2 linked regions of the Homo sapiens genome follow. The protein of the gene in region 2 interacts with the protein of the main gene of each other region in a biochemical or structural test. Each region holds a gene or a part of one and is shown on either strand. Other genes may lie near its edges.

Region 1 (3,600 bases), on a different chromosome or scaffold from region 2:
CTCAATAGCTCTTTCAACTTTCTACCCCGTATTTTTTGTTTTGTTTTTAAAGAGGAGACTCTGAGACTCAACTTGCTAGGTCTTTAAAAAATGAAATGCCAAAAATACCTAATGAGACTCTCGAGAGGAACATAAAGTTAAACACATCACTAAAGGGCCTACAAAACGGAGTAAAGCCCGGAGATCGGGTGATCTGGCAGCCCAGGCAAGATCGAGGACCGCGACTAGGAAAGGAGACAGCAGGAGAGCAGTTAGACGTCCACTTAGAACGGATTCACTGCGCTATTAACCGTACCCGCCTCCCCCCGCACCGGCCCAACCTTTACACACAAACACATTCCCTCCCCCAATTAACTAAAGAAGCAATTAAACTATGCCCACCACCAGACTCGATGCTTAGGCTAAACCTCCCCCAAAGTAAAACAGCATTATCAAAAAAACACAACATTTGTCTTAAGGGTTTGGAAGCTGCCCCTTCCGTTATCTCCTCACCACGTAAGGTAACCAATTCCCTCCTGTCCCCCACCAGGAGTTCAAAGTGTGATTTCCCCCCGATTTACATGTGTTTTTATGTTTTTCCGCATTTTTCCGTCTAGGAAATGAAGGATTTCTTATTCTGAGGAAGGGAGAGACGCCGAGGAAGACAGGATTTGAGGTTTTACTACCTTCGTTATTCGAACTCCCCTCTAACTTGTTCCTGTACTAGAAACCCACTCACTATGGAGAAGGAAGGAGAGGGGCTGAACTGATGGACAAACGTTGTAAATAATAGGTTTTATGTAATCCACATATAAATAAATTAATCGCCTGACTCGCTCTGAATGCTAATACGATTGGGGTGACAATTGGCCCACCTCCCTCCCCCAAGTCCTAGTTAAACCCACCTACCACCAATTTCCATTCTGATCTATTTAAAAGGATACTCTATTCCTCTCAGTCAAGTTTCTCGGCTTCTTTAGGCCTCCCTGCATGCCCCCCTCGTCATCATCCTCCCTCAGCCTCAACTTCCCACGGCTTAAAAAACTGCCCCGCGCAGACCCCGTCTCCGGGCTCGCCCTCCCTCAACCGTCCCTCGCCGTCCCCCTGGGCAGGAAACCCCTTACTGCGGTCTAAAGTCTCTCTGGCCTCTCCCTTCTCTGACCCTCGCTTCCCACAACTGTTGTCACTGGAGCTGCTTCCTAGTTTCCATTTCCGGGCCGTCCACGGCCCCGGAGCCTCCCCTTTCCCGATTTCCGGGCCCCTCGTCCCATTTCCGGGGAACCCTTGCCGTCTTCACACCCCCCACCTGCACTTCCGGCCCCCCACTTTCTCTCTTCCCAGACACCCTCCAAGCTCCAAAGCCCACTTCCGGCCCCCCTTGGTCCCCGCCGAGCTCCCCAACACCCGCAAGCCTTACCCCGGTTCTGTGAAGGGCCCTCCTCATTGCGGGAAGCCGGAGGAGGGACCCAGCGACCCCTACCTCCCGCCAGGCCCCGGTCCCTCCGGCCGCGGCCGCCCTCGAGCGTCTCTCCCGTCCACCCCCGGCCCGGTCCTTCCGCGGCCCCGCCGCCGCCGGCGCCGGGAGCAGGCCAAGCGGGGGCCGAATCGCGGCGATGACACAACCGGGCTTCCTGGGACTTTCTGTTCCAGCTCCTCCCCCCGCCCCCCCAACCCCTCAGCTGGCCCCCTCCCCCAAGGCTTGCCCCCGCCGCCCAGAGCTGCGCCCCAATTACCTAGTTAGGCCCCAAAGTCTCCGGTCCGGACTCGGTGGCGCGGCAGTAACTTCCACTAGCTCCCCCCACCCCCCCCAGCGGCGCGGCGGCGGCGGCTCCGGGTTCCTTCAATTATCAGCTGAGCCGCAGCACCGCGCCCGGCGTGCGCCTCCGCCCGTGCCGCCTCCCTCCCCGCCTGCTCTGACACCCTCGGGGAACTACTTTGTCCTCGGGCTCCGGTTACGGGCTCGTCCGCGGGACCGGCACCGCTGCCTACTGGCGGCCCATCACATCGCCCCTCCCTCCCACGCCTCCCGGCTCGACTCTCTCAGCAGCCTCCGATCTCCGCCCGATCCCTTCGAGGGACCAGGAAGGGGACTGTGGAGATCTACTTGGTATCCCTCCGCCGGGGTCACCCCCTCCCCTCCGTGGTAGCAGGAACTAATTCCCCCTCGGGTCACCCGGGACCTGGAGCTGGAAATTTCACGGATCAGGGTTCCCTAAGACCCTTGGAAGAGGGGACGATCGCCCCAAGTTAGAAATCCTTCTGCCAGCTCATAAGCGTGGTTCAATTTAAACTAGGGTTTTGGCCCCTTGACCCCAACCAAGCCCCGCCCCTTCCTGGTTGTCTTAGCGACGGCGGTGGCGTCCCAAGATGGCGTCGTGGCTGCCGGAGACTCTCTTTGAAACTGTAGGACAAGGCCCGCCGCCTAGCAAAGACTATTACCAGTTACTGGTCACCCGGTCTCAGGCAAGTGCGAGCCGCGGTTTACCCTCTCTCCTAACTCCCTACCTGGCCCGGTTGGGGCCCGGGACGCAGGCTGTGCTAGGCCAAGAGCAACCGTAGCCCGCCGGAAGCGCCCAGTCCCGGCTCCGCGCCGGGAGATTTTCCTCGTCACCTCGGCCTCCTCGGTCCGACGGCCCGCGTGTCCCTGCTCTCCCCGAGCCCGGCTAGTCCCTGGCAAGCCTTCTCTGCCTCCCCGCGGTGCCGCGTGCTCCTTTCCCGCCACCCCGGCTTCTTACCCGTAGAGTTTCCTCCGCGCGAAGAGGAAAACGGGCGTCTCCGGCTTGCGTGCGGCCTCACCTCAGCGTGAGAAGGAGGGAAAGAACGACTCAGCCAAGTGTCCCAAGGAGGAGCCGGCTAGGGAGGGGAAAAGGAGATTGCCTCTTTTCCAGGATAGGAATTAATCATGGAGAATTTTATAAATCTCTTTGTGGCCTTTACGCGTGCCACGGCCACATCAAAACTTAGTTATTTCTAGTAGCAACTGACGATTGGGAGCTCTTACCTTTTGGAGTCCCTTCTATCCCATTGAAAGTGTGCGGGTGGTGGTATAAAAATGTTTCAGCTGCTCTGCGCTTCAGCCCCACCCATAATGACATCTGCTCCACAACAATAAGACCGAGGATTATATTATCTCCAAAGTAACCATCGGCCTATTTTTATGCCTACTTTGGTTATTGAAGGTGGGCTTTTGGATGATTTACTGTGTCCATGAAATTCTCAACTTGAGCGGGGCCTCCATTGGGAAGACGTTTCTAATCCTGGCTGAGTTTACGCCTGTCACTGAGTTATTCATGCACCCTGCCCTTTCAATAGATACTATTCCTATAAAATGAAATTTAGAAGTTTGTATATATTTGTTTTGGTGTGCATATTGATCATTCCCTCAGTTTTTCCAGGAGCCCTTAAACAAAATAGGTAATGAGTTAATTTTTTTATATTTTTGAAAGCATCTTTTAAAATATAAATGTTAATATATATTTTTTAATTTAAGATTTAGAAATATTACAAATGTAAAATCAGCCTGTCCAAAAAAAATTTTTTTTAAAACAGTACTGCTCCTTGCGGAGCAGGGCTAATTCATAGGCAGTGGGCCCAGGGTCAGACTCAAATTTTTAATTAAAC
Region 2 (3,947 bases):
GGCGTGCTCTTGGCTCGCTGCAACCTCCGCCTCCCAGATTCAAGTGATTCTCCTGCCTCAGACTCCTGAGTAGCTGGGATTACAGGCGCTCATCACCACACCTGGCTAATTTTTTTGTACTTTTAGTAGAGACAGGGTTTCACCATGTTGGTCAGGCTGGTCTCGGACTCCTGACCTTGTGGTCCGCCCGCCTCAGCCTCCCAAAGTGCTGGGATTACAGGCGTGAGCCACTGCGCCCGGCCTCTCTGATTTTTAAAAAAACAAAAAACATGCATTACTTTTATAGGCAGGAAAGATAATAAATATGTATATTTTATTTAATTAATTAATTTTTTTGAGATGGAGTCTCGCTCCGTCGCCCAGGCTGGAGTGCAATGGCATGATCTTGGCTCATTGCAACCCCTGCCTCCCAGGTTCAAGCAATTCTGCCTCAGCCTCCCAAGTAGCTGGGATTGCAGGTGTGTGCCATCACATCCAGCTAATTTTTGTATTTTTAGTAGAGACGGGGTGTCACCATGTTGGCCTCCTGGTCTTGAGCTCCTGACCTCAGATAATCTGCTTGCCCCGGCCTCCCGAAGTGCTGGGATTACAGGTGTGAGTCACCGCGCCCGGCCATTAATCAGGCTTTTTGTTTTTGTTTTTTGAGACGGAGTCCCGCTCTGTGGCCCAGGCTATAATGCAGTGGCGCGATCTCTGTTCACTATAACCTCTGCCTCCTGGGTTCAAGCGATTCTCCTGCCTCAGCCTCCTGAGTAGCTGGGACTACAGGCATCCGCCCCCACACCTGGCTAATTTTTGTATTTTTAGTAGAGACGAGGTTTCACTATGTTGGCCGGCTGGTCTCGAACTCCTGAGCTCGTGATCCACCTGCCTTGGCCTCCCAAAGTGCTGGGATTATAGACACGAGCCACCACCCTTGGCCCCGTGTTTTTTACAGCAACATTAATTTCATAGATCCAGGGCAATGTAGTCAAAACCCAATAATTTCATTTTAATTCCGAAAGTCACTGTCTTGAAGAGTATGATGGAAAGACTTTAATGACCAGCAAGACTTATTGTAAAACCTATAGTAATTAAGACAGTGAGGCATTGGTACAAGGACAGACAGATATCCTAATAAAATAAGAGATCCTAGAAACAACCCAAGCATATGTGGCCACTTGATGTAAGACCAAGGTGGCGCTGCAGAGCGGCAGGTAAAAGATGGTCTTTTCAACACGCATTGCTCAGTCAATTGGATATCCATTTCAGAAGAAAATGAAATTTGATCACTACCTCAAGATACCATATACAAAATCAATTCACTATTGAGTTTTTTCTCTAAATGTACAAGGTAAAAAAATAACACTTCTAGAAGATAATATAGAAGAATATCTTCATAACCTTGAGACAGGGAAAGATATTTTAAATAGGACACAAAAAGCCCTAACCACAAAGGAACGATTGATCCAGTGAACTACATTAAAATGAAAAACTTTGGATTATTAAAAGGCCATTAAGAGGGAGGAAGATTGCTTGAGCTCAGGAGTACAAGACCAGCCTGGGCAACATGACAGTATCCCATCTCTGCAAAAAAATACAAGCATTAGCCAGGCGGGGTGGTGTGCACCTGTGGTCCCATCTACTTGGGAGGCTGAGGTGGGAGGATCACTTGAATCTGGGAGGTGGTGGTTGCAGTGAGCCGAGATCCTGCCACTGCACTCCAGCCTGGGTGACAGAGTAAGACCCTGTCTCAAAAAAAGCCATTAAAACCACTGGATCATCAGAAGACAGTTATAGGGTAATGTACCTGCAATACTAAAGATTTATATCCAAAATATAAAATGCTCAAAAAACAGGCACTGCAGAATAGAAGATACCCAGATGGCCAATAAACATAGAAAGAAGTGTGAAGTAGCAGGAACTTGTTGAACACTGAAGTGAGAGTATAAATTGATGCAACTACTTTGGGAAACTGGCACTGACCGCTAAGTGGGATATATTATGCATATTTTATGATCCAGCAGTTCTCCTAAACATATAACCACCCCCCAGCTTTACCTCCCCACTGCCAATGCCTGGACATATATACAAAAAGACATACAGGAATGTTCATAGTAGTGTTTGTAATAGCTCCATAAACTGGAACAGCTCAAATGTCCAGTTACTGTAGAATAGTACAGTATATTCATACAATGGAATATTATAGAGGAGTGGAAATGAACAAATTAAAGCCATGCACAACAACATAGATGATCCTTATACACATGTTGAACACAAGAAGCCAGACACGAAAGAATTGTGTGATCCCATTTTTATACGTAGTTCAAACTCATCTGTGATTTAGAAGTCACAGCAGTGGTTACCTTTGCAGAGGAGCAAGAGTGTGTGATTGGAAGGAGGCATGAAGGGGACTCCTGGGTGTAGGTAATGCCTGTTTCTTATCCTGCGTGTGATTACATGGGTGTGTTGTGTGTTCACTTGTGATAATTCAGTAAGATATACACTTATGGTTTGTATACTTTTCTGTATATGTATGATGCTTTAATGAAACGTTTAAAATTAAACCTACTACACTGAGAGATCATTATTCACCTCCCAGTGTTAGAGATCAAAACATTTGGCAACACATTGTTGGCAAAGGAACTCTCTGCTGTTGGCAGCTGTGGTTAGAAGGATCTGTCTACAAGATTAAACTTTGACACAGTAACCTCACTTTTGGGAACTTATATTGCATATATTCTTGCTCATGTATAAGATTATTGATTGCAACATTGCAATATCAAGAGACTGGAAACCACCTAAATTTCCATCAGTTGTTAAGAAATTATATCCACATAATGGAGTACTGTGCAGCTGTAAAATACATAGAAATGCTTTGTGTACTGATAGGAAAAGACCACTAAGTTAAAATGTGTTCTGAAGCTACAAATAATATACAAAATACAGTACACTGTATTAAAAGGGGCAAAGGGAAGAATATATGTATTCACTTGAATTTGCACAAAATATCTTTGGGAAGATGTTAAATAACCACATCCCTTTCCTGTGGGGAGAGGGGCTTGGGTGGCTGGGAGGTGGGCATGGGGGACTTTTCTCTGGGTGCTCTGCACTTGGATCCGTATATTGTACTCCTGCACTTGGATCCATATATTACCTAATAAATGAAAATATTTGGGAGTTAACCCTCAGATGTCTTTTTCCTCTCAGACATGGCAAATATGTACGTCTTACTCCGTGCTGTGTCCACTGGTTTACCTCATATGATTCAGGAGCTGCAAAACCACATCCATGATGAGGGCCTTCGAGCAACCAGCAACCTTACTCAGGAAAACGTGAGTTGTGTGGGAAACTGCAATGTTTTCCTCCTAATCAGATCCAGCGTGGAGCCTTTCCTTTGACTTTATTGTTTTGAAAGATGAAAGAAAAAGTCTTACCATGCCAACGAAAGAAATGTCTTTATTCAAATGTTTTAAACCTAGAATTTGTTGGACTCATTTTGGAATTATCAGATTATTAGAAAGCTATTGATAGGCTGCTGCTTAGCCATACGGAGGGTGTCCATTGAACAGTTGTTAACTTTCCACAGGAAAATAAGCTCGCCATTTTTAAATAACTGTGTTTTTGTGTAATTGGCATTGATAACGTAGTTTGTTGTCATGGTAGTAGTATTAATCAGTGGTAATATAGACGACTTGCAATTTGCCTCCTTTCCATATCCTCTGAATTTGGTTGTCCAGGAAGCAAATTTAGATTAAAATAATCTTCTGTAAGTATATGCTTGCTGCCCCAAATACCCAAAACAATAACCCTCATATCCCTAATACTCATCTTTCTCGAATACTTTGCCAATCACATGACTGTAACAGTTTGTACTGTAACAGTTTGTCTTTCCCATCACCAAATCTTGTTATTACTGGTAATGTTTGATGAGCAAGAGAGAAATAACTTCAAATGTTACTGTCTCT

What was found. Proteins that work in one complex are often made in the same cells at the same time.
Region 1: the proteins of CUL2 (region 2) and TRIP12 form a complex in vitro, tested with the Homo sapiens proteins (one study listed by BioGRID).

The regions. Positions count from the first base shown.
Region 1 is NC_000002.12:229,920,168-229,923,767, forward strand, and holds the start of TRIP12 (E3 ubiquitin-protein ligase TRIP12), read right to left. Parts: upstream 1,843-3,600; 5' UTR 1,713-1,842; intron 1,623-1,712; exon of another isoform or gene 1,104-1,622; intron 1-1,103. Other genes in the region: FBXO36 (F-box only protein 36), read left to right, coding at 2,347-2,442. UniProt on the Homo sapiens protein: E3 ubiquitin-protein ligase involved in ubiquitin fusion degradation (UFD) pathway and regulation of DNA repair.
Region 2 is NC_000010.11:35,034,539-35,038,485, reverse strand, and holds part of CUL2 (cullin-2), read left to right. Parts: intron 1-3,189; coding exon 3,190-3,314; intron 3,315-3,947.